Regions from separate parts of the Homo sapiens genome. Here all the other regions are linked to region 3. The links come from fine-mapping of genetic effects on gene expression. A gene starts in region 3. Each other region holds a variant in brackets. All regions are shown on one strand. Distances are from middle to middle. Region 1 overlaps AP1M1 (adaptor related protein complex 1 subunit mu 1). Region 2 overlaps CIB3 (calcium and integrin binding family member 3). Region 3 holds the start of FAM32A (family with sequence similarity 32 member A).

What was found. PIP is the estimated chance that this variant, and not a neighbour inherited with it, causes the effect. A credible set is the group of variants that fine-mapping cannot tell apart.
Region 1: its variant is the best candidate, but not a certain one, in a credible set for the expression of FAM32A in adrenal gland (GTEx, PIP 0.69).
Region 2: its variant is the best candidate, but not a certain one, in a credible set for the expression of FAM32A in whole blood (INTERVAL, PIP 0.54).

Annotation. Positions count from the first base shown.
Region 1 is chr19:16,228,500-16,236,666 of GRCh38, forward strand. It overlaps AP1M1 (adaptor related protein complex 1 subunit mu 1), which reads left to right. Exons shown (of 12, transcript NM_032493.4): 9 at 271-429; 10 at 4,994-5,119; 11 at 5,700-5,775; 12 at 5,914-8,167. The coding sequence ends at 5,936. Among named protein-coding and RNA genes, the nearest start is that of AP1M1, 35 kb to the left of the region's middle. The variant G/A (reference allele first, on the strand shown) is at 4,504.
Region 2 is chr19:16,159,329-16,167,504 of GRCh38, forward strand. CIB3 (calcium and integrin binding family member 3) reads right to left here. Exons shown (of 6, transcript NM_054113.4): 5 at 5,390-5,585; 6 at 2,040-2,158. The coding sequence ends at 2,137. Among named protein-coding and RNA genes, the nearest start is that of CIB3, 10 kb to the right of the region's middle. RefSeq lists an enhancer at 950-1,039. The variant G/A (reference allele first, on the strand shown) is at 4,857.
Region 3 is chr19:16,180,517-16,188,692 of GRCh38, forward strand. FAM32A (family with sequence similarity 32 member A) reads left to right here and starts at 4,894. Exons shown (of 4, transcript NM_014077.4): 1 at 4,894-5,000; 2 at 5,108-5,249. The coding sequence starts at 4,927. RefSeq lists enhancers at 2,178-2,677, 3,901-4,536, 4,439-4,488.

The DNA of each region.
Region 1 (8,167 bases), 48 kb after region 3:
ACATAGACATTGTCCTAGGAGGGCAGGGCAGAGGGAGGGATGAGGAGCCTTGGAAGCTGAGCAGACAGGAGGATGAAGATGAAACTCCTGAAATTAGGTCTTGGGAGAGTCTCGAGGGCAGGAGAAGGGGTGGGTAGTGCCTGGAGAAGTGGGGCCAGGGGCGGGGCTAGGGAGGATCCCCCGGGCCAGGCTGAGGGGCATGTGTCCTGGAGAGGCTGGCCAGCTCACCTTGGCCTCCATAACCCCGGGCCGCATTGGCCTGGCCTGCAGGCCAAAAGCCAGTTCAAGCGGCGGTCAACAGCCAACAACGTGGAGATCCACATTCCCGTGCCCAATGATGCCGACTCACCCAAGTTCAAGACGACGGTGGGGAGCGTTAAGTGGGTCCCCGAGAACAGCGAGATCGTGTGGTCCATCAAGTCCTTCCCGGTGAGCACTCTGTCCAGACATCCACGTGCCCCCTGCGCCTGTCTCTGCAAGGCAGCCTGGGTGCCTCAGGACCCCCTGCACCTCAAGATGGGGTGACAGTGGCCACTGTGTCTTCCACACCTGGGGCTTCTGAAAGGGTGGACGGAGAGCTGAGGACTGGAGTGGGAGGAAGCAGAGGCTGACTCGGCCCCTGGGCCCCTTTCTGCCTTCCTCTTGTTTGTGAACCAGCCTCTGTCTTCACCTCAGGGCAGTGCCCTCTCCCTCCCTCTCTGTGATGCCCCTGAGTACTGATGTGAGATGGGGCTCCTGTCCATGCAGGCCCTGAAGGAGCCCCGTCCACACTGGCAGGTCCAAGGCCCTTTCTGTGCAGGCTCAGCCTTGCCTGCCATCAAGGGGAACGGCTGCCTGTAGGCCGGAGCAGCACAGCCTCCAGAGCTCCGCACCAGCCGCCCATGTCCTGGGCCAGCTCTGCATCGGCGTGGCTTCCCTGACAACATGTTAAGGATTCTGAGGAGCTGAGTCTGGGCTTGCCGGGTGTACACAGTGCACAGAGAGGCTAGGCCCAGGCATGGCTCTGGAGCTGAGCCGGGTGGCACTGACCTGCTCCACCAGGGGGGCTCAGGGCAGGCGCTGCTTTCCATGTTCTCCCCTCTCTCTCCATCTGCATCCCAGGGGGACTTGGGGACAGCCCCAGCTGAGTTAAGCTGGAAATGCTGCAATTCAAGTGCCTTGAATTTCATGATGGTACTTTCCCTCCCAGCCTCAGTCTAATCACATGACATAAAATACAGAAAGTAGAGGAAGGAGAGAGAAAAGCCAGTTACCCCACCACCTAATACTCCCGTCAGCCTTTCCGCGTGTCTCCTCACCTTTCTTTCTGCGTATTTTGCTTTTCCTCATTATGTGCAAGTAGAGCCAGCTCAGTGCCTGCCCTTCCACGTGGCGCTGCGGCAGAGCGTTTTCCTTCTGGTATTGACTGTCTTCTTGGCGGTCACCTTTGGGAGCTGTGGATATTCCATGGAGGGGTGGTGACCATCCCGGATAGTTGGATTAGCTCCTCTTTTCCTGCAATTCCACTGTTGAAAATAGTGTTTATCATTTAAAACACACTGGGAGAATACTTCATCAAATAAACAGCATGGTGAGCTGTAGACGGGGGAGGAAGGGACAGGGCTAAGGGCCGAGACACAGGCTGGCGTGGACTGTGCTTGTGTAGATTTTACTTCGAAGCCATGCACAGGCACACCTCATTTTATTGTGCTTCCCAGATACTGCATTTTTATTTTTGTTTTAGTTTTTAAACAAATGGAAGGTTTGTGGCAACCCTGCGTTGAGCAAGTCTGTTGATGTCATTATTCCAACAGCATGTGGTCTCTGTGTTGTCACTTTTTAGCAATAAAGTATGTTTTAACTAAGGTATGTACATTCTCCTAGACATAATACTGTTGCACATTCAGACTACAGTATACGGTAACCTTTTTTTTTTTTTTGAGACGGAGTCTCGCTCTGTCGCCTAGGCTGGAGTGCAGTGGCACAATCTCGGCTCACTGCAACCTGTGCCTCCCAGGTTCAAGTGATTCTCCTGCCTCAGCGTCCTGAGCAGCTGGGATTACAGGCATGTGTCACCACGCCTGGCTAATTTTTGTATTTTTAATAGAGACGGGGTTTCACCATGTTGGCCAAGCTGGTGACGAACTCCTGACCTTGTGATCCGCCTGACTCAGCCTCCCAAAGTGCTGAGATTACAGGTGTGGGCCACCGTGCCCGGCTGGTAAACGTAACTTTTACATGCACTGGGAAACCAAAAAATGTGTGTGACTTGCCTAACTGTGCTATGTGCTTTATGGCAGTGGTCTGGAACCAAACCTGCACTGTGTGAAGGTACACCTGTCAGTGCTTCCCATGCATAGAAAACAAAATTAAATCACAATGGAAAAAAGGTAATTCCTAAAAACCAAAAGCAAAATTAATTCATCAGCGTATCAAGTTGATGACAACCACAGAGACACGTCACTTCAAATAACACACCCTAAGGACAAAAGGAACTGCAAAAAATAAATTTTAAGAAATACAGAGAGGGCCAGGCGCTGTGGCTCACGCCTGTAATCCCAGCACTTTCGGAGGCTGAGGCGGGCGGATCACAAGGTCAGGAGATCAAGACCATCCTGGCTAACATGGTGAAACCCCGTCTCTACTAAAAATACAAAAAATTAGCCGGGTGTGGTGGTGGGTGCCTGTAGTCCCAGCTACTCGGGAGGCTGAGGTGGGAGAATGGTGTGAACTCGGGAGGCGGAGCTTGCAGTGAGCCAAGATTGCACCACTGCACTCCAGCCTGGGCAACAGAGCAAGACTCTGTCTCAAAAAAAAAAAAAAAAAAAAAAACACAGAGAGAGATTAGAAATACAGATTAGATAGATAGATAGATATCCTTCCCCCTTTCTTAGATTGCTCCATACTAAAAGTTTTTTTTTTTTTAGGTTAGTTTTTTTTGTTTCTGAGATGAAGTCTCACTCTGTTGCCCAGGCTGGAGTGCAGAGGCACGATCTCGGCTTACTGCAGAGGCATGATCTCGGCTTGCTGCAACTCCACCTCCCGGGTTCAAGCGATTCTCCTGCCTCAGCCTCCCAAGTAGCTAAGATTACAGGCACATGCCACCACACCCAGCTAATTTGTGTATTTTTAGTAGAAACAGGGTTTCGCTATTGTTGCTCAGGCTGGTCTCAGGTGATCTGCCTGCTTCGGCCTCCCAAAGCACTGGGATGACAGGCGTGAGCCACCATGCCTGGCCTATTGTGAATAATGCTGCTGTGAACGAGTGCACAAATACCTCTTCAAGATCCAGCTTCCATTTGTTTTGGGTGTATCCCCAGAAGTGGAATTGCTGGATCATATGGTGATTCTATTTTCAACTTTTTGTGGAAGTGCCATAGTGTAGGCTATTTGCTTTTAAACCTAGAGTGTTTCTCAGTCCTGTCCCTACTGCTGTCTGTTACCAGGTTAGGGAATTTGATATGTGCCCATGGGTGGCCATGGCACATGACACTGTCCACCTGGATGGAGATCTGGGCCGGGCCTTGCGTCCAGGCCTTCTCCTGGCTCTCTCTGCATCTCCTATAGCACCTGCTTCACAGAAGTTGCTGCCATGTTACTTCATGCGTGGGTACCTGTGACTATTGTGTTGTCCCTGTGGCTTATGGGACGGCAGCCTCTAGGATTGTGGCCTGTCCTCCTGTGCACCTTTCTCCCTTGTGATGATGGCAGCCCTGTCCTCTTTTGTCTGCCTTTGGCAGCACGCCTGTCAATGCCTGTTCTTCCTACCCGGGGAGCCCTTCTCACTGTGCCTTTGTGGCGTCGAGTGGGTTTTGGTGTGTGAGCCGGCGCCAGCCTACAGCTCTCATCGAGAGCAGAATTAAACCCACTCGGCTCAACGTGACGACACAGGCTGGGTGTGCAGGCCTCCATCGCCCCTGGCGTCTGCTTCCCTGCATTTTCTTTGTTTGTGTTTTCCATTTGGTCTTTGCTAAGGTTCAGATTTGGGGTCTGGCTGAGTGTTTGGGGCACAGGCTAGTCACCGAGCGGGTTTGTTCCCTCGCTGCCTGCTTTACCAGTTGCTGATGTCGCATCTTCCCCCCGTCATCCTCCTGGAGTCTGTACTCAGCACATGTCACCAAGTCAGGCAGAGTCCTCACTCTCACGCTGCCCTGGTGGCAGTAGGCAGAGATGAACCACTCGGCCCTGCCCCAGGTGCACGGGGACCGCCCCTGCTGTGAGGCAGAAACAGCCCTAGGCGGCAGTAGCTCCCACGGAACCTCGGCCTGAGCCCTGGGGAGCAGAGACTGTGGGGTCCCAGGCACAGCCAGAGCTGAGATCGTGCCCCCGACTGCTCAGGGCGAGACCAGGCGCTGGGGGTGACCAGGCTGCAACCTGTTGCTCCTCAAGGCAGAGAGAGGGTGAAGGTCACAGCCAGGACTCGGGTTCCAGTCAGAGCCACAGCCACCCCCTGCTCACCCTCAGGAGCAGGACCCAGGGCTGAATCGTCACTCAGTGCATGCTCCTTGGTTTCTTCCTTTTGTC[G/A]CCTCTCCCTGGTCATGGTTCTCACCTGGACACTCTCTTTTCTTTCACATGCTGTTCTGAGACTGGGCGTGTGGCCCCTGTCCCCAGCAGCCCTCCCCTGCCACGGTCATTACACACTCTTCCTTCCCATGGCCGGTCTGTCTAGTTCACCAGCCTTGGAGGAAAGTGCATTAGGGGAGCTGGGCGGGGGGTGCTGGGCCACTGCAGACCACACTGGCAGGGGCTTGGTGACTGGGGCTGGCAGCTTGGTGAGCTCAGCTCTGGGCGCCTGGGTATCCTCATGGGGCAGCTGGGCACCCCAGAGCAGGGGCTGTCCTTACCAGCCTGGGGCAGCACAGGGCCGAGCTTTGGCTCCCCAGCACAGGGGCTCATGCTCCCCTCCCTGGACTGGGGTGAGTGGTCAGTCTCTGCCCATCGCCACTAGGGCCAGAGCTGTTGGCTAAGCTGGGGCAGGGCCTAGGCCTGAGCGCCTCCCCCGTCTGCTCCCCAGGGCGGCAAGGAGTACCTGATGCGGGCCCACTTCGGCCTGCCTAGTGTGGAGGCCGAAGACAAGGAGGGCAAGCCCCCGATCAGTGTCAAGTTCGAGATCCCTTACTTCACTACCTCCGGCATCCAGGTACGTAAGGCCCAGGCGGCCGGGGCCCAGAACAGGGACAGAGGCCGCAGGTGACAGATATCAATGCAGCCAGCTTGGGAAAGGGTGTCAGTCAGCTGCAATCAGGACCCTGCTGTGCTGTGGGCCTCTGCCTCCCCACAGACAGGGTGAGGCCAGGCTGCCTCTGCTCAGCCCTGACCCCTGAGCTCAAAGCTCACTCATTCTGCCCCAAACTAGCATTTGAGGCTCTGCCGTCCACTCATGCCCCATGGGACCTCTTTTCCCTGGCACCCCCTCAAAAGCCCACAGAGGGAGGAGAGGCTCCCAGAGAGCCAGGGGCCTTCTGGCCGGGCCCCCCAAGCAGGCTGCTGAGGCCGTGTCTGCAAGCCACATCCTGGCTGCTCACCACTTCCAGAGGCGGCTCTGCCCTCCCACACATTTGCATGGTCCAGACAAATCCCTTTCACCCCCCTGAGGCCTGTGCTCATCCTGTCGTCATGGCCTCCCCTGCCAGCCCCAGGCTGCCCCAGCAGGAAAGATTAAGGGGGGACCAACAGGGCGGGAGCCTGCGGTGCTCAGGGCCCTGCTACCTGTGCCCCAGGTGCGCTACCTGAAGATCATTGAGAAGAGTGGGTACCAGGCCCTGCCCTGGGTGCGTTATATCACGCAGAATGGAGGTGAGTGAGGCCCTACCCGTGGGGTGGGGTTGTACTGAGGGGTCCTCTGTGGCTGCCCCCAGGGTGGAGCCATCGGGTCGGGTCCCGAAAGCAGGGAGGGTGCAGAGCCCAGCATGACGCCTCCCTCCTGTCTCCTAGATTACCAGCTCCGGACCCAGTGAGGGGCTGTCGCAGCCAACACCCCGGCCTCGGGGCTCCTGGTGGCAGCACCAGGGGACACACCTGCCAAACCCACCAGATGGAGGGGCCCTCCCTGGTCTCTGGCCACCCTCCCAGCCTCTGCCCAGGGACCCCTGCCTTCCCCAGGCCATCTGCTCTGCCGTCGACACTCGTCTCAGAAGCCCCTTTCCCAGAAGAGGCTGGTCTTCAAGAAGTCTCGTTTCTTTGCCCCTGAAGTCAGTTTCAGGGGAAGGATGTGAAATTTTTCCGTGTAGAGGTTACAGCCTTTTATGCTGTTGAGCTCCCAGGTACCAAAAAGCTTGGCCAACGCTTGCCAGCCAGCCAGCTGCAGGTGGCATCTGCCACGAAGGAAGCGCCAGCCTCGCCAGGCCAGCAGGGGCGTCGTTTTGTTGCCATTTTGTTGAACGTTATGGGTTTATGGGTGTTCCTGGAACTTGTCTTTGTGCATTCGTTGCTGTTTGTGTTACCCTCACTGTCCCCATGTCCCACCCACGTCCTACGGCACTCAGGAAGCACTTGGTGAGGACGAGCCCTCACCCTTCTTGTCTTCCTTCCCGGCAGCGCCCGCAGCGGGCCATTTACACGTCGAGGCTGGCACCTGGCGCGCTCGGGGGCCACTGTAGCGTCTGCCTGCTCCCTGGACTCGCAGGCCTCGCCTGTGGCGCCTTCCCAGGGCCAGCCTGGGTCACGAGATGCTGTCACTCAGCCAGATCAGTATTGACCCACCAGGGGAGGTGGGGTTTGGTGAGAGACGCCAGCCTCAGACTTTTTCCCACTGAGGGTCCAGAGAGCGGGGCCACGTGTCACCCACGTCTGCGCTTGGTCACCCGTCCTCCCCACCCTGTGTGTGTTTATGTCATAGTTACATTAAATTCCATTCATTGAATACTCCACAGCCTTCCTCTGATGCAGCGTGGTCCCAACTCCTCCTGCGTGACCACAGGGCTTGCCTGGTTTTGTCGCCGACCTTCCCTGTGGCCCCACGAGGTGTCACCAGCTCCCTCTGCTTCCCCAGCTGAAACACAGGAAAAGCAGCTGCGGGAAGAGGCAGCTGCAGTGCTGGACCATGGGCCACCACTCCTGGGCCACACAGAGGAGGCCACAGAGGCAGAGTCTTCTCTCATCCAATCTGCTGCACCCTCAGATGGCCAACAGCTTGTCCCCACCTCTCCCCAAACTGATGGCCCACTCAGAGCATGGTCCTTGTGTCCACAGCAGCATCCCCTGTGTCCTAGCTAGAAATGCAGGTTCGTGGGCCAGCCCTGACCTGCCAAAGTGGAGGCTCTGGGGCCAGGGTCCCGGAAAACATTAACAAGGCCCCCAGATGCTTCTTCTGTGAACTGCTACTTGGTCCATGGGGGAAATAGCACATATGCAGGAAGTGCTGCCTGCTCTTGGCCCCCTCCCCGACCAGTGCTGATGGCCCTGCCTGGCCAGCACCCTCTTGCCTTCATTCTCCCCCTCCCTCTCCTGTCTTGCCGAGCTCGTCCTCAGGTGTCTAGTGGGCATCCGACCTAACAGCCTGAGTAGAACCTTCCGCCCACGTAGGTCTTCCCCATCTCAGTCAATGACGCTGCCCCAGCCCAGGCCTCAGACCAAAGCCCTGAAGGCATCCCTGGGGCCCCTCCCCTCACTGTCCACACCCATATCAGCAGCCAGCCCTCATGGCCCCTCCAGAAAACCCTGGGGCTGACCCCATTTGCCATCCTCGCTGCCACCCCCGGGGCCTAGCTCCAGTGTGGGCTGTCACTGTCCCCACCCTGTGGAGCCCCCATGCTGGGACACCGCAGGGACAGGAGAGGGCTGGTCCACAGGACAGAAGAGAGACTTCAGTTTCCAGCAACTTATCAGATAAGACCTGCAAACCCTCCACTACAGACTGTAGAAATGCAGGAAATGAAGCAGACGCACCTAGCCGTGCCCATAAAAAAGCAAGGAGACCCACAGGAGCCCAAGACGAAGGAAGTAGACGCGGAAGACACCGTGGGGGCTCACACCGGAGTTGCTCTTGGAAACCACCGGGTTTAGGTTTGGGGGCCAGGTGGCAGATAGGACTTTGGGCATCGGGAAGATGGTGAAATGCAGTGGAGATGACTCCTGCGTGAAGCTGGGATCCTCGAGGGTCATGATACTTAACAGTAAAAAGATGGACTAGAAAAAACATTTGCCCTCCACCCCTGAGAATAAGCACTGTGTCCTCTCTCTGCCTGAG
Region 2 (8,176 bases), 21 kb before region 3:
TGAGTCATGATCACCCCACTTCAGCCTGAGCAACAGAGAGAGACCTTGTCTCAGAAAAGAAAAAAAAAAAAAAGAAAGAAAAAGCTGGCCGGACGCAGTGGCTCACACCTCTAATCCCAGCACTTTGGGAGGCCAAGGCAGGTGGATCACCTGAGGTCAGGAGTTCAAAACCAGCCTGGCCAACATGGTGAAACCCCGTCTCTACTAAAAACTACAAAAATTAGCCAGGCATGGTGGCTTGCGCCTGTAATCCCAGCTACTCAGGAGACTGAGGCAGGAGAATCGCTTGAACCTGGGAGGCGGAGGTTGCAGTGAGCCAAGACCAAGCCACTGCACTCCAGCCTGGGTGACAGAGCAAGACTCCAGACTGGGTGACAGAGCAAGACTCCATCTCAAAAAAAAAAAAGGCTGGGGACGGAGGAGGCATCACAGGGCCATGATGGTGGAGGGCTCTGGAGGGAATCCTAGGTTGTGGGGCTGTGTGACCTTTGGCAAGTCTAGACATCTCTGGGCCTACTTTCTTACCTGGAAAATGAGAAGAGCAGTCCCTCTTCAGGATGAACTGGCAGAATGCATGTAAAACCTGGGACTTTGGTGCACAGTAGGTGTTTTTCTTTTTTTTTCTTTTTCTTTGAGACGGAGGAGTTTTGGTCTGTCGCCCAGGCTGGAGTGCAGTGGTTCGACCTCGGTCCACTGCAACCTCTGCCTCCTGGTTCAATTGATTCTCCTGCCTCAGCCTCCTGAGTAGCTGGGACTACAGGAATGCACCACCACATCCAGTTACTTTTTGTATTTTTGGTAGAGACAGGGTTTCACCATGCTGCCCAGGCTGGTCTCGAATTGCTGGGCTCAGGCGATCTACCCGCCTCAGCCTCCCAAAGTGTTGGGATTACAGGCGTGAGCCACTGTGCCTGGCTCCTTTTTTTTTTTTTTTTTGGACAGAGTCTCGCTCTATTGCCCAGGCTGGAGTGCAGTAGCACGATCTCTGGTCACTACAACTTCCCTTTCCTGGGCTCAAGCGATCCTCCCACCTCAGCCTCCCAAGTAGCTGGGACTACAGGCATGCACCACCACACCCAGCTAATTTTTGTATTTTTGGTAGAGACAGGGTTTCACCACGTTGCTGAGGCTGGTCTCAAATTCTTGGGCTCAGACAATCTGCCCACCTTGGCCTCCCAAATGCTGGGGTTACAGGCTTGAGCCACCGTGCCCAGCCCAGTAGCTGCTTAATTTATTAGCGGGTTAAGATGGGAGTGAGCTCTCTAGACATGACATACTGTACAATGGAGGTGTCTGGGAAGGTCCCTAGGGGCTGGTCTTGGTTGCAGGAGTGACTACTCCTTGGACTGACTGGGGCATAGATGGGGGCCCTGGGGCAACCCCAGGTGGAGGGGGTGTGGGGTTCCCCAAATGTACAAGGTTCAGACATCTGGGATCTGGTATGAGGTGCACCTGGGTTCAAGCCCGCCCCTGCAAATGACTTGTGGGGTGGCCTTAGGCAAGTCACTCTGCTCCCTCCAAATGAGGGCATGATCCTCGGCCAACTCTGCAGGGATGTTATAGGGGGTCAGTGTCACGTTAGGGGGCAGATGCATCATAAACTGTAAAGTGCAGCAGCCACCTCAGTGAATGACATTTCCACCCCTCCCAATCAGTGGTCTCCTCTTGGCAGCTCTAATGAGTCAGCCCGGGAGGAAAAGTTTCAATCCCTTTGATGACTCAGGGTTTGAGGGATAAAAAGAAACTTGAGTAGTGAAGGGTGAGGTTTGGCCTTCAGAGTGGGAACCCTGGGGTAGGACAGCACGGGCCCGATCTCCCCACCACCTCACCTCCGCCACGGACACCCACAACAAGGCATTTCCAGCCTTCACAGTGAAGACGATCTAGGAGTCACCCCTTCCTTGTACAAACAGGGAGATCGTGGCCCAGAGAGGGTGTGGCCACACTCAGGGTCACACAGCAAAGTCAAAGATAAAATTCTACGCCGCCTCCCTCCCATCTTCCAGTTTTAAGGTGGAAAAATGTGTCCTCCCAGCAGGTGTGACTCAGTGACTTGTGTTTATTCTCAGAAACCAGAGTCCACAGCGGGTGAGGGGTCACCCCGCCCTCCTATAGCTCGGCTCCTCTGTGGTGCCATCAGATTCGGATGTGGAAGGTGCTGTGTGCAGAGAGAAAAGGAGTCAAGGCCTTCAAGGAGTGGACAACCCCTTTTCCTCCTCCCCCTCAACACGCTCACGGCAAGTCCCTGGGACAGGCAGGAAGGATGCCACATGGACCCCTCAAACAACCCTAGGCCGGGAGACCCCTACAGGGGCTGAGAGCACATGCCTTTAATTTTTTAATTCTTTTTTTTTTTTTTTTTTTTTTGAGATGGGGTCTTGCTCTGTCTCCCAGGCTGTAGTGCAGTGGTGTGATCTTGGCTCACTGCAACCTCTGCCTCCTGGGTTCAAGTGATTCTCATGCCTCAGCCTCCCGAGTAGCTAGGATTACAGGTGCATGATACCACGCCCAGTTAATTTTTCTATTTTCAGTAGAAACGGAGTTTCTCAACTTGCTTTGTTGCCCAGGCTGGTCTGGAACTCCTGTGCTCAAGCGATCCACCCACCTTAGCTTCCCAAAGTGCTAGGATTACAGGCATGAATCACCACATCCTGCCATATGATATAAAGTTTCAAATAGCTAGAAGAAGGATACTGAATGTTCTCAACACAAATAAATGATACATGTTTGAGATGATGGATATGCTAATGACCCTGATCTGCTCATCATACATTATATGTATCGAAACCATTATGTGGCCTGGTGCAGTGACTCACCCCTGTAATCTCAGGACTTTGGGAGGCCAAGGCAGGAGGATCAGTTGAGGCCAGGAGTTTGAGAACAGCCTGGGCAACAAGGCAAGACCTTGTCTCCACAAAAAAAAAAAAAAAAAAAAAAAGTTTTTAGTTAGCTAGGCGTGGTGGTGTGTGCCCGTACTCCCAGCTACTCAGGAGGCTGAGGTGGGAGGATTGCTCTTGAGCCCAGGAGGTAGAGGCTGCAGTGAGCTATGATTGTGCCACTGCACTCCAGCCTGGGCAACAAAGTGAGACCCTGTCTCAACATTTTCAGCACTGCCTCAGCTTATAGATAAAAACAAAAACAGGCCGGGCATGACGGCTCACGCCTGTAATCCCAGCACTTTGGGAGGCCAAGATGGACAGATCACCTGAGGTCAGGAGTTCAAGACCAGCCTGGCCAACATGGCGAAACCTTATCTCTACTAAAAAAATACAAAAATTAACCGGGCGTGGTGGCGGGCGCCTGTAATTCCAGATACTCGGGAGGCTGAGGCAGGGAGAAGTGCTTGAACCTGCGAGGTGGAGGTTGCTGTGAGCCGAGATCGTGCCACTGCACTCCATCCTGGGTGACAGAGCGAGACTCCATCTCAAAAAAATAAAATAAAATAAATTAATTAATTAATAAAATAAAACAAACAAAATTAGCCAGGCACAGTGGCACGTACCTGTAGTCCCAGCTACTTGGTTTATTCTTATTTTATTTCTTTTTTCTTTTCTTTTCTTTTTTTTTTTTTTTTTTTTTTGAGACAGAGTCTCGCTCAAGCTGGAGTACAGTGGCGCAATCGTGGCTCACTGCAAACCTCCACCTCCCAGGTTCGGGTTCAAGTTACTCTCCTGCCTCAGCCTCCCGAGTAGCTGGGACTAGAGGTGTGCCCCACCATGCCCAGGCTAATTTTTGTATTTTTAGTAGAGACTACTGCCTCAGCCTCCTAAAATGCTGGGATTACAGGTGTGAGCCACTGCGCTCGGCCCCGTAGTCCCAGCTACTTAGGAAGCTGAGGTGGGAGGATCTCTTGAGCCGAGGAGTTAGAGGCTGCAGTGAGCCGATTGCACCATGCACTGCAGTCTGGGTCACTGAGTGAGACCCTGTCTCAAAACAAACAAACGGGCTGGGCGTGGTGGCTCACGCTTGTACTCCCAGCAGTCTGGGAGGCCACAGTAGGTGAATCACTTGAGGTCAGGAGTTCAAGACCAGCCTGGCCAACATGACAAAACCCTGTCTCTACTAAAAATACAAAAATTAGCTGGGCATGGTGGCACGTGCCTGTAATCCCAGCTACTCGGGAGGCTGAGGCAGGAGAATCACTTGAACCCAGGAGGTGGAAGTTGCAGTGAGCTGAGATTGCACCACTGCACTCCAGCCTGGGCAACAGAGCAAGACTCCGTCTCAAAACAAACAAACAAACAAAAAGAAACATCACTGTGTACCCCATGAATATGTACAATCATTATTTGTCAATTCAAAAAATAAAAAATAAAGTGAAATTTAAAAATTATAAGATAATAATAGCAACAGCAATTTATTAAACACCTATTGTGTGCCAGGAGCTGTGCTGAATTTTCTCCATATATTAATTTGGGGTTCAGCAAACCTTTTTCTGTAAATGGCCAAATAGTTGATGTTTTCAACTTTATACCATGACGCAACTCTGTTGTTGAAGCACACAAGCAGCCATAGACAAAATGTACACAAATGGGTGTGGCTGTGAGCCAATACAACTTTACTGATGGACACAGAAAAGTGAATTTCGTATCACTGTCACGTGTCATGGAATAATCTTTTTTTAAATTAAAAAAAAATTTTTAATGTGTTTATTTATTTTTGAGACAGAATCTCACTCTGTGACCCAGGCTGGAGTGCATGGCACAATCTGAGCTCACTGCGGCCTTGACCTCCTGGGCTCAAGCAATCCTCCCGCCTCAGCCTCCCAAGTAGCTGGGACTACAGGCATGCACCACCATACCTGGCTATTTATTTATTTATTTATTTGTAGATATGGACTCTCCTTATGTTCCCCA[G/A]TTTGGTCTCAAGCTCCTGGGGTCAAGAGATCCTCCCCACTTAGCCTCCCAAAGTGCTGGGATTAAAGGCATGAACCACCCCACCTGGTTGGAATATTATTATTCTTTGATTGTTTTTTGATCTTTTGAAAATATAAAAGCCATTCTTAGCTCACAGGAGGTACAAAACCAGGCTTTGGGTCAGACTGGCCTATTGGCCGTACTTTGCCCTGCAGTGGCGGCTGATTTTCCCCAAAGGCTGCCAAGTACAGTTACACAGTCTGTTCACTGCAAACTGTTCAGGCAACAAGGGCTGAAGTCCAGCCACATTCTGCTTGCTGAAAGAGGTGTATCCACTCGCAAGAGGTGCCCAGGGGGTCCCTAATTATCCCCATTTTACAGATGCAGGGACTGAGACTAGGGAAATTGAGAAAGTTTCCCAAGGTCATGAAAGAATGAATAGAGGAATTTTCAGAAACAGAGTCTGTGAACTGTCTGCGTAAGAGCCCCTTCAGATGTGCAAATGGACTGTGGGCGGTGACGGAGAGCATCACCTGAGGAAGTCTGGTGCCCGGAGGATCATGTTCTGGAAATCTTCCAGGGACAGCCGCCCATCATGGTCTCCATCAGCCTCATCCAGCACCTTCTCACATACCAGGCTCACCTCCTCGGCACTCAGCCCCCCCCGCGTCAGTTTGGTCACCGTCTGCTCCAGGTCCCACGCACAAATGTAGTCGTCGTTGTTAAAATCTGCAGAGCAGGATGGATGGGGAGTGACAGCAGGTGGCAGGAGGGCTAGGCCGGCTGTGGGCACATACTGTGCCCATGTTACAAGAAGGGGAAACTAAGGTCGGGCACGGTGGCTCACGCCTGTAATCCCAACACTTTGGGAGGCTGAGGAGGGTGGAACACCTGAGGTCAGGAGTTCGAGACCAGCCTGGCCAACATGGTGAAATCCCATCTCTACTAAAAATACAAAAATACCCAGGTGTGGTGGCATGCACCTGTAATCCCAGCTATTCAGGAGGCTGAGGCAGGAGAATCACTTGAGCCCGGGAGGTGGAGGTTGCAGTGAGCCAAGATCTCACCACTGCACTCCAGCCTGGGCAGCAAGACAGAAACTCCGTCCAAAAAAAAAAAAAAAAAAAAGGAACTGAGGCCCTGGGAGGGCACCCGAGACCCTGGTGTAAAATCTGGAACTTGCCTTAAAATTGGGCAGGGACCTGCTGGGAGTTCATTCATTCATTCAACAAGTATTTATGCAATGAATTTTTCATTCGTTCTTTTTTTTTTTCTTTGAGACGGAGTCTCGCTCTGTCGCCCAGGCTGGAGTGCAGTGGCACGATCTCGGCTCACTGCAACCTCCACCTCCTGGGTTCAAGTGATTCTCCTGCCTCAGCCTCCCAAGTAGCTGGGATTACAGGTGCCTGCCACCATGCCCGGCTAATTTTTGTGTTTTTAGTAGAGATGGGATTCCCCATGTTGGCCAGGCTGGTCTCAAATTCCTGACCTCAGGTGATCCACCCACCTCGGTCTCCCAAAGTGCTAGGATTACAGGTGGAAGCCACCACACCCAACCTCATTCATTCATTTTTACAAGCATTGAGTGCCTGCTGTGTGCTAGGCACTGTAATAACTTTTTTATTCACTCATACAAGTATTTATTGAGCATCTACTATGTGTCAGGCATCACAGTAACTGATTTTCATTCACTCACTCACTCAACAAGTATTTATTGAGTGCAATTTTCATTCATTCACTCACTTAACAAGTATTTATTGAGTGCCTACTGTGTCCTGGCACTGTGATAATAATTTTTCATTTACTCATTCAAAAAACAGTTATGGGCCCGGCGCAGTGGCTCATGCCTGTAATCCCAGCACTTTGGGAGGTGGAGATGGGTAGATCACCTAAGGTCAGGAGTTCCAGGCCAGCCTGGCCAACATGGTGAAACCCCATCTCTACTAAAATTACAAAAATTAGCGGGGCGTGGTGCGGGTGCCTGTAATCCCAGCTACTAGGTAGGCTGAGGCAGGAGAATCGCTTGAACCCAGGGAGTGGAAGTTGCAGTGATCTGAGATCGCGCCATTGCACTCCAGCCTGGGCGACAAGAGTGAGACGCTGTCTCAGTAAAAAAATAAATAAATAAAAATAGTTATTGAGTGCCTACTATGTGCCAAACACTGTGACAGCTCTTTCATTCATTTATTCAAGTATTTCTTGAACACGTACTACGTATCAAGCACCATGATATCTGTTTTTCATTTATTCACTCACTCAACAAGTATTTATTGAGTGCCTACTGTGTAGTGGGCACTGTGATAACTTTTTTCATCTATTCACTCAAAAAGTACTTTTTAACTGCTTACTGTGCACCAGGCACTGTAATAACTTTTTCATTTATTCATTCATTCATTCATCCATTCAGGAAGTATTTATTGAGCACCTACTACATGTTGGGCACCATAACTCTTTTATTCACTCACTCAACAAGTATTAGTGTCTACTGTGTGCCAGGTACTCTGATAACTTTTTCATTCATTCATTCATGCAACAAGTATTTATTGAGCACCTACTATGTGTTGGGCACCATGATAACTATTTTTCATGTACTCACTCAAAAAGTATTATGGTGGCAGGGCACGGTGGCTCATGCCTGTAATCCTGCCACTTTGGGAAGCCGAGGTGGGTGGATCACTTGAGGTTAGGAGTTCAAGACCAGCCTGGCCAACATGGTGAAACCCCATCTTTACTAAAAATACAAAAATTTGGCTGGGCGTGGTGGTTCATGCCTGTAATCCCAGCACTTTGGGAGGCTGAGGCGGGTGGATCACCTGAGGTCAGGAGTTCGAGACCAGTCTGGCCAACATGGTGAAACTCCGTCTCTACTAAAAATACAAAAAATTAGTCAGGCGTTGTGGCAGGCACCTGTAATCAATCTCAGCTACTCAGCAGGCTGAGGCAGGAGAACTGCTTGAACCCGGAAGACGGAGGTTGCAGTGAGCTGAGATCGCGTCACTGCACTCCAGTCTGGGGGACAGAGCAAGACTTTGTCTCACAAAAAAAAAACACACACACAAAAAAAACAAGTATTTATTGAGTGCACACAAGGTGCCAGGCACTAAGATAACTGTTTTTCTTTCATTCAGTCATTCAACAAATATTTACTGAGCCAGGCTCAGATGACAGGTGGTGAGCAAAATAGATACTGTTGGTACCTTTGAGTCTTCTCAGGGACAAAGTCAATAAGAAGTGAACAGGTCAAGGAACAAGAAATTAAGCAGCATTGCCTGGTGCTAGAAGAGAAATAGGATGGTGGGATGGGGGGATGAATGGGGAGA
Region 3 (8,176 bases):
AACCACCATGCCTCGCCTCTGTTTATTTCTTAAAACTGCATGTGAGCCTTCAATTATTTCAAATTAAAAGTTTAATTAAAAAAATTACTTCCCCTCCATTTAAACACATTTTGTTTCACATTTTAATACCTCCAAAATCAAGATGCATCTCGAAAGTACTGTTGGAGCATTCTCATTGCCTATACATGCACACCCATTAAAAGCATCCGCTTCAAAACTCACAGAATGGAGGCAGAGGCTAGGAAGAAAATCCCCTAGGATGTGAGGAATGGGGGTGTGGAATCCCATGCGCTTAGCTACATTCCTGAAGTGGGAGCTCACTCAGCAAGCCTGACATTATTGCAAAGCTGGCTAGAAAGTCAAGCCCCACCCTCACTTAATTCCTTTACAGATTCTTTCTTTTCCCTTTTTTTTTTTTTGGAGATGGAGTCTTGCAGTCTTGCTCTGTCACTCAGGCTAGAGTACAGTAGTGTGACCTCGGCTCACTGCAACTTCCGCCTCCCAAGTTCAGGTGATTCTCCTGCCTCAGCCTCCCGAGTAGCTGGGATTACAGGCGCCTGCCACCACGCCTGGCTAATTTTTGTATTTTCAGTAGACACAGAGTTTCGCCATGTTGGCCAAGCTGTTCTTGAACTCCTGACCTCAGGGGAACCACCCGCCTCAGCATCCCAAGGTGCTGGGATTACAGGCATGAGCCACCATGCCCAGCCTCTTTCTTTTCCTAATAAACTTTTAGTTTTGAAATAATTTTAAATTTACATTAAAATTGCAAGGATGGGCTGGGCGCAGTGGCTCACACCTGTAATCCCTGAACTTTGGGAGGCAAAGGCAGGCAGATCACTTGAGGTCAGGAGTTCGAGACCAGCCTGGCCAACATGGAGAAACCCCATTTCTACTAAAAATACAAAAAATTAGCCATACGTGGTGGTATGTGCCTGTAGTCCCAGCTACTCGGGAGGCTGAGGCAGGAGAATCGCTTGAACCTGGGAGGCAGAGGTTGTAGTAAGCGAGATCGCGCTGCTGCACTCCGGCCTGGATGACAGAGCAAGACTCTGTCTCAAAAAAAAAAAAAAAAAATAGCCGGATGTGGTGGCACATGTGTGTAATCCCACCTACTGCAGGGGCTGAGGCAGGAGAATTGCCTGAACCTGGGAGGTCGAGGTTGCAGTGAGCCAAGATCGTGCCACTGCACTCCAGCCTGGGTGACAGAGTGAGACTCCATTTCAATAAACAAATTAACTAATTTAATTTAAGTGCAAGGATGATACAGACAGCTCCCATAACCCTTTTGACCTGCTTCCTCTAATGGTTTTTTTTTTTTGTTATTTATTTATTTATTTATTTTTGAGATGTAGTCTCACCGTGTCACCCACGCTGGAGTGAAATAGCAAATGGCAAAATCTCGGCTCACTGCAACCTCTGCCTCCTGGGTTCAAGCGATTCTCCTGCCTCAGCCTACCCAGTAGCTGGGGCTACAGGTGTGCGTCACTACGCCTGGCTAATTTTTGTATTTTCAGTAGAGGCGCAGTTTCATCATGTTGGCCAGGCTAGTCTCAAACTCCTGACTTCAAATGATCCACCCGCCTCGGCTCCCAAAGTGCTGGGATTACAGGTGTGAGCCACTGAGCCCGGCTCTAATGTTAACATCTTACACAACCACAGCATATTTAGCACTACTAAGAATTTAACATTGGCACGTTACTATTTCTTTTTCTTTTTTTGTAGTTTTTTTTTAATTTGTATTCAAGACTCAACATAATCATTTTCTTTTCCTTTTTTTTTTTTTTTTTTTTTTTGAGATAGGGTCTTGCTCTAGTGCCCAAGCTAGAGTGCATCAATCAAGATCCTAAATCACTGCACCCTCGAACACCTACACCCAGGCTCAAGTGATCCTCCTGCCTTAGCCTCCCGAGGAGCTGAGACCGCAGGTGTGCCCCGCCACATCCGGCTAATTTTTTTCTTTTCTTTTTTTTTTTTTTTTTTTTTTTTGAGACGGAGTCTTGCTCTGTCGCCAGGGCGGAGTGCAGTGGCACGATCTCCGCTCACTGCAACCTCCGCCTCCCGGGTTCAAGTGATTCTCCGCCTCAAGCCTCCTGAGCAGCTGGGATTACAGGCTCGCGCCACCACGCCCGGCTAATTTTTTTTATTTTTAGTAGAGACGGGGTTTCACCATGTTGGCCAAGATGGTCTCCATCTCCTGACCTCGTGAGCCGCCCGCCTCGGCCTCCCAAAGTGCTGGGATTACAGGTGTGAGCCACCGCGCCCGGCAAAAAGATCGCCTTGCTTTTGACACAAAAGTGCTGGCAGCCCCCATCCCCTGGTACCAGAAGCCCCTCTGCACAGTCTTTTCCAGGTGTGGACGGATAATTAGGCAGTGACTTGCTGCCCCCTGCAGGTAAGACTGAGAAAGGCAGCCCCTGTGCCCTCCTTTTTCTTGTGTCCGGTAGATTTGGGGACGTTTGCTTCTCTCTTCTCCACCTCCTTTGCCTTCTCCCCACTACCCCACCCCCCGCCAGCAATTAAAAAAAAAAAGCCACCCTGGCACAATTTGGACAAAATCTATGAGAAATAAAACGTGCAAACGTGCATAACCTTGGACCTAGTAATTCCATTGGTTGCAAAAGTCAGCCAAGATTTGTGGGCACGGATTGTGTTCATTCATTTATCTAGGGCAGTATTAGGGCTGTTTCTAATTTGTTGGCTATTACAAATAAATCTGCAGTGAACATTCATTTACACAATTTTATATGGGTCTATACTTTCATTTCACTTGGGTTAAAACGTAGGAATCTAATTCTTTTGTCATAGTATAAGTGAATGCTTAATCTTTTAAAGAACTGTCAGACTGATTTCTAAACTGTTTATGCCATTTTACATTCACAACAGCAGCACGTTTGAGTTCCAGTTTCAACACATCTTCACAGATACTTGGTAGGCACAGCCTTTTTAAATTTTTCCCATAATAGTTTTTTTTTTTACTAGGTTTTTGATACAGAGGGAAATAGAGAAGAAACCAAAAATTCCGATAGTCCTCTGCTGACATTAAAAAGATATATTCAAGGGCCGGGCACGGTGGCTCACGCCTGTAATCCCAGCACTTTGGGAGGCTGAGGCAGGCGGATCACCTGAGTTCAGGAGTTCGAAACCAGCCTGGACAACATGGCAAAACCCTATCTCTACTAAAAATACAAAAATTAGCGGGGCATGGTGGTGGGCGCCTGTAATCCCAGCTACTCAGGAGGCTGAAGCAGGAGAATCTCTTGAACCTGGGAGGTGGAAGTTGCAGTGAGCCAAAATCGTGCCACTGCATTCCAGCCTGGGCAACAGAGCGAGACTCTGTCTCAAAAAAAAAAAAAAAGATATATGCATGTACACATCGTATGTAAGAAAACCGCACAGTACTGAAAGGATGAAAAGAAAGAAAGAAAGGGCCAGGGGTGGTGGCTCACGCCTGTAATTCTAATGCTTCAGGAGGACTGCTTGAGGACAGGAGTTTGAGACCAACCTGGACAACACAGCAATACCCTATCTCTATTGATTTTTTTTTTTTTTTTTTTTTTTTGAGACGGAGTCTTTGTCTGTTGACCAGGCTGGAGTGCAGTGGTGCGATTTTGGCTCACTGCAACCTCCGACTCCCGGGTTCAAGCGCTTCTCCTGCCTCAGCCTACCAAGTAGCTGAGACTACAAGCGCAGGCTACTATGCCCAGCTAATTTTTGCTTTTTGTGTTTTGTTTTGTTTTGTTTTAGTAGATACAGGGTTTCGCCATGTTGGCCACGCTGGTTTCCAACACCTGACCTCACGTGAACCGCCTACCTTGGTCTCCCAAAGTGCTGATTTAAATATATATGTACTTTTTTTTTGAGATGGAGTCTCTCTCTGTCGCCCAGGCTGGAGTGCAGTGGTGTGATTTCAGCTCACTGCAACCTCCGCCTCCCGGGTTCAAGCGATTCTCCTGCCTCAGCCTCCCGAGTAGCTGAGACTACAGGCGCCCGCCACCACGCCCAGGTAATTTTTTGTATTTTTAGTAGAGACGGGGTTTCACCGTGTTAGCCAGAATGGTCTCCATCTCCTGACCTCGTGATCCGCCCACCTCGTTTTCCCAAAGTGCTGGGATTACAGGCGTGAGCCACCGCGCCCGGCATAAAATAGATTTTTAATTGTTTTAACATACCACCAACCTTGTCACATGATATTGTCATTTACCTAAAGCTGAAAAATTAATGAATACTGATTAGGTTTACAAAATTAGGTTCAGCTATCCAGTGAACGCTCAAAATATGGCAATAAAAGAGAACGGGGGTGGTGGGGCGTGGCTCAGGCCTGTGATCCCTGCGCTTTGGAAGGCCGAAGCAGGAGGATCACTTGAACCCACGAGTTCGAGACCAGCCTGGACAACACAGCGAGACCCCATCTCGACAAAAAAATTTAAATGAAAATATTAGCCGCGCTCAGTGGCGCCCGTCTGCAGTCTGCTACTGGGGAGGCTGAGGCGGGAGGATCTCTTGAGCCCAAGGGTTCAAGGCTGCAGTGAGCCACGATCGCGCCACTCCACTCCAGCCTAGGTGACAGACCAAGATCGTGTCTCTAAAAAAGAAAAAAAAATCAAGGAGAGAGAACAGGTCACCCAAAAGTGCGCAAAACGCTCAAAAAGGGGTTGGGTTTCCAGCACCCTGTGTGAAGAATGGGAGACCGGAAGTGGGCGCCAAATTCGGAAGTGTGGCAGCAGATAGGAATCGAAGGGCACTCATTCGCTTGGCTCTCTGTCCCGCCCACTACCCGGAAGTGTGGCCCGGGTCCAGAACCAAGAGCGCATGCTCACCTTGTAGCTCAGCCAATCAAAGAGAAGCGAGGCGGCCATTCGGGCGGAAATAGTGTTTGCAAACAGGAAGTGTGGCACTCCAGCTACCGAAGCACTGGAGAGTGTCATGGAGGCCTACGAGCAGGTCCAAAAGGGACCCCTGAAGCTGAAAGGCGTCGCAGAGCTGGGAGTGACCAAGCGGTGAGGCCCGAGGGCCCGCGGGATTCCGTCTTCATCCCCCTTAGACCTTTTCTCGGGACCCCTGGCCCTGATCCTCCGACCCGCCGCCTCCTCATGTCTTTTTCCAGGAAGAAGAAAAAGAAGGACAAAGACAAAGCGAAACTCCTGGAAGCAATGGGAACGAGCAAAAAGAACGAGGAGGAGAAGCGGCGCGGCCTGGACAAGCGGACCCCGGCCCAGGCGGCCTTCGAGAAAATGCAGGAGAAGCGGGTGAGCAGAAGCAGAAGGCGGCGGGGAGGCGGGAACACCCGGCGCCGGGAGACTGGAAATTGGGGTCAGGGCTGGGACGCTCCGAGGGCAGGGGAGCGGTCAGAGGAGACCTTAATTACGGGGAGAGGATGCTGTACGTGAGTGAGAGAAGAGTCGCCCTCTGCCGGGGGAGCTCCAAGGATGAGAAGACCCCGCTGGCCCGAGTGGGCAGCAGAGGGGAGAGCTAGAACTGGCGTTGAAAGGAGGCCAGAGCTGGAGACCCGGGTTTGGATTCCAGTGCTGTGGCTTATTTGCCCTGCGACACTAGGCCAGTGACTTTCTTATTTCCGTGCCTCAAGTTTCCTCTTCTGTACGAGTCAGGGTAGTAACTTATTCTAAGAGGGTTGGGAACTTGAGAGGAAGTCATGAAAGTAAAAAGCAGTGCATACATGTTCAGTGGATGCCAGCTCTTGATATTAAATGGCCATGCTCGCCGCTCGAAGTCACCACAAAGTTTGTTTCCAAGACAACTTTGTTTGGCAGATTCAAACATGCTGTATTTTTTAAAAAATTAGTTATTTTTGGCGGGGTCAGAGCACTGCAGCCTCTGCCTCCGGGGTTCAAGCAATTCTCCTGCCTCAGCCTCCCGAGTAGCTGGGATTGCAGGCGCCCGCCACCACACCTGGCTAATTTTGGTATTTTTCGTAGAGATGCGGTTTCACCATGTTGGCCAGGCTGATCTCGAACTTCTGATCTCAAGTGATCCGCCCGCCTCAGCTTCCCAAAGTGCTGGGATTACAGGCGTGAGCCACCGCACCCAGTCTCAGCTGTTGATATTGAATGGCCATGCCCATGACGACTTTGTTTGTATTGTATTATAAGGCTCCGATAAATTATTTTTTCTTAACACCATAAATGTGTGCAGTGGAGAACAGAAGAGTTCACAGTAAGACAGAAACTGGGTCCATTATGCTGGGGAGAGGGAATAATCAGTGTAGGTCAGTGATTCTCACCTGGGGGTAGTCTCCACCCCCCTAAACTCCCACCCCGAAGCACATGTGGCAATGTCTGGAAACATTTTTGGTTCTCAACTGGGTTGGGGTGGGGACTACTGGCAACTAGTGGCTAGAGGCCAGGGATGACACCACACACCCTGCGATACACAGGACAGCCTGCCGCAGCAAAGAGTGATCCGGCTCCAAATGTCAGTAGCACTGAGGCTGAGAAACCCTAACCCTGGTCTAGGTGATTCTGTACGGTGACACTGGGGAAAATGGACCTTGGGGACAATTAACTCCTTACTCCCAGATCTAATTCAGGCATACAGAAAACACATGGATGCACTACCTCTGGCATGACAGACCTGAGTTTGACTCTGCCTCTACCACAAATTAGTGGTGTGACCCTGGGCAAGCCGGCTACCTATTACTTAAAGTAGCACTAAAGTCTGCCTCACAGGGTTGTGGTAAGGATTTAACAAGTCAGGCGGGCGGATCACGAAGTCAGGAGTTCAAGACCAGCCTGGCCAACATGGTGAAACCCTGTCTCTACTAAAAATACAAAAATTAGCCGGGCATGGTGGCACACACCTGTAATCCCAGCTACTTGGGAGGCTGAGGCAGGAGGATTGCTTGAACCAGTACCCGGGAGGCAGAGGTTGCAGCGAGCCGAGATCACGTCACTGCACTCCAGGCTGGCAACAGAGTGAGACTCCGTCTCAGTGAGACTCAGTCTGGCTCTGTCACCGAGGCTGGAATGCAGTGGCTCGATCTCGGCTCACTGCAACCTCCGCCTCCGGGGTTCAAGCGATTCTCCTGCCTCAGCCTCCTGAGTAGCTGGGATTACAGGCGCCTGCCACGACGCCCATCTAATTTTTTTGTATTTTTAGTAGAGATGGAGTTCCACCACGTTAGCCAGGCTGTTCTTGAACCCCTGACCTCAGGTGATCCGCCTGCTTCAGCCTCCCAAATTGCTGGGATTACAGGCGTGAGCCACCACGCCCGGCCTTTTTTTAATTTTTTGAAAAAGCCTCGCTCTGTTGTCCAGGCTGGAGTGCATTGGTATGATCTCAGCTCACTGCAACCTCTGCCTCCTGGGTTCAAGCGATTCTCCTGCCTTAGCCTCCTGAGTAGCTGGGACTACAGGCGCCCACCACCATGCCCAGCTAATTTTTGTATTTTTAGTAGAGACGGGGTTTCACCATGTTGGCCAGGCTGGTCTCGCTCTCCTGACCTCAAGTGATTCACCCGCCTCAGCCTCCCAAAGTGCTGGGATTACAGGCGTGAACCACCATGCCTGGCCAAGTAAATGCATTTCTTTCCCTTCTAACCCTGAGGTTGTAGTCAGAGGCAGGGCTGAGATTTTATTGCTGGAAGCCAGAATGAGACTTATGCGAGACTTAGGCAGCTATTAAGAGACTAATAATGGGAGCTCAGAGTAGAGCAGTCGTGATGGAGCCAGTGGAAGGTAACAGGTTTGGAATAGGTTTTCAAGGATGAATTCAGGGTTAGCTGTTGGGTTGGATGTAAGCTGGGAAAGAAAGAAGAGTCAAGGATGACCAAGACTTTGGGCTGGGCAGTTTGATGAATGAAGGTGCTGTTTACTGGGGTGGGAAGGATTGCAGGTAAAGCAGGTTTTCTGGAGTGGGAGTTGAGGGAGGGGGAACCAAAGCTATAGTTTTAAAGAAGGTAAATGCAGTGCCCCAGTAGAAATCCAAGTGGAGTCAGCCAGGCACAGTGGCTCATGCCTGTAATCCCAACATTTTGGGAGGCCGATGTGGGAAGATCAGTTGAGCCCAGGAGTTCAGGACTAGCCTGGGCAACATAGCGATACCCTGTCTCTTCAAAAACTAAAATAGTAGCTGGGTGTCACGCCTGTGGGCAGAGCCCAGCCAGGTGCCTGGCATTGTGTGGCAGCTGGACAAGTCAGTGTGGCTTCTCACAGGGAGA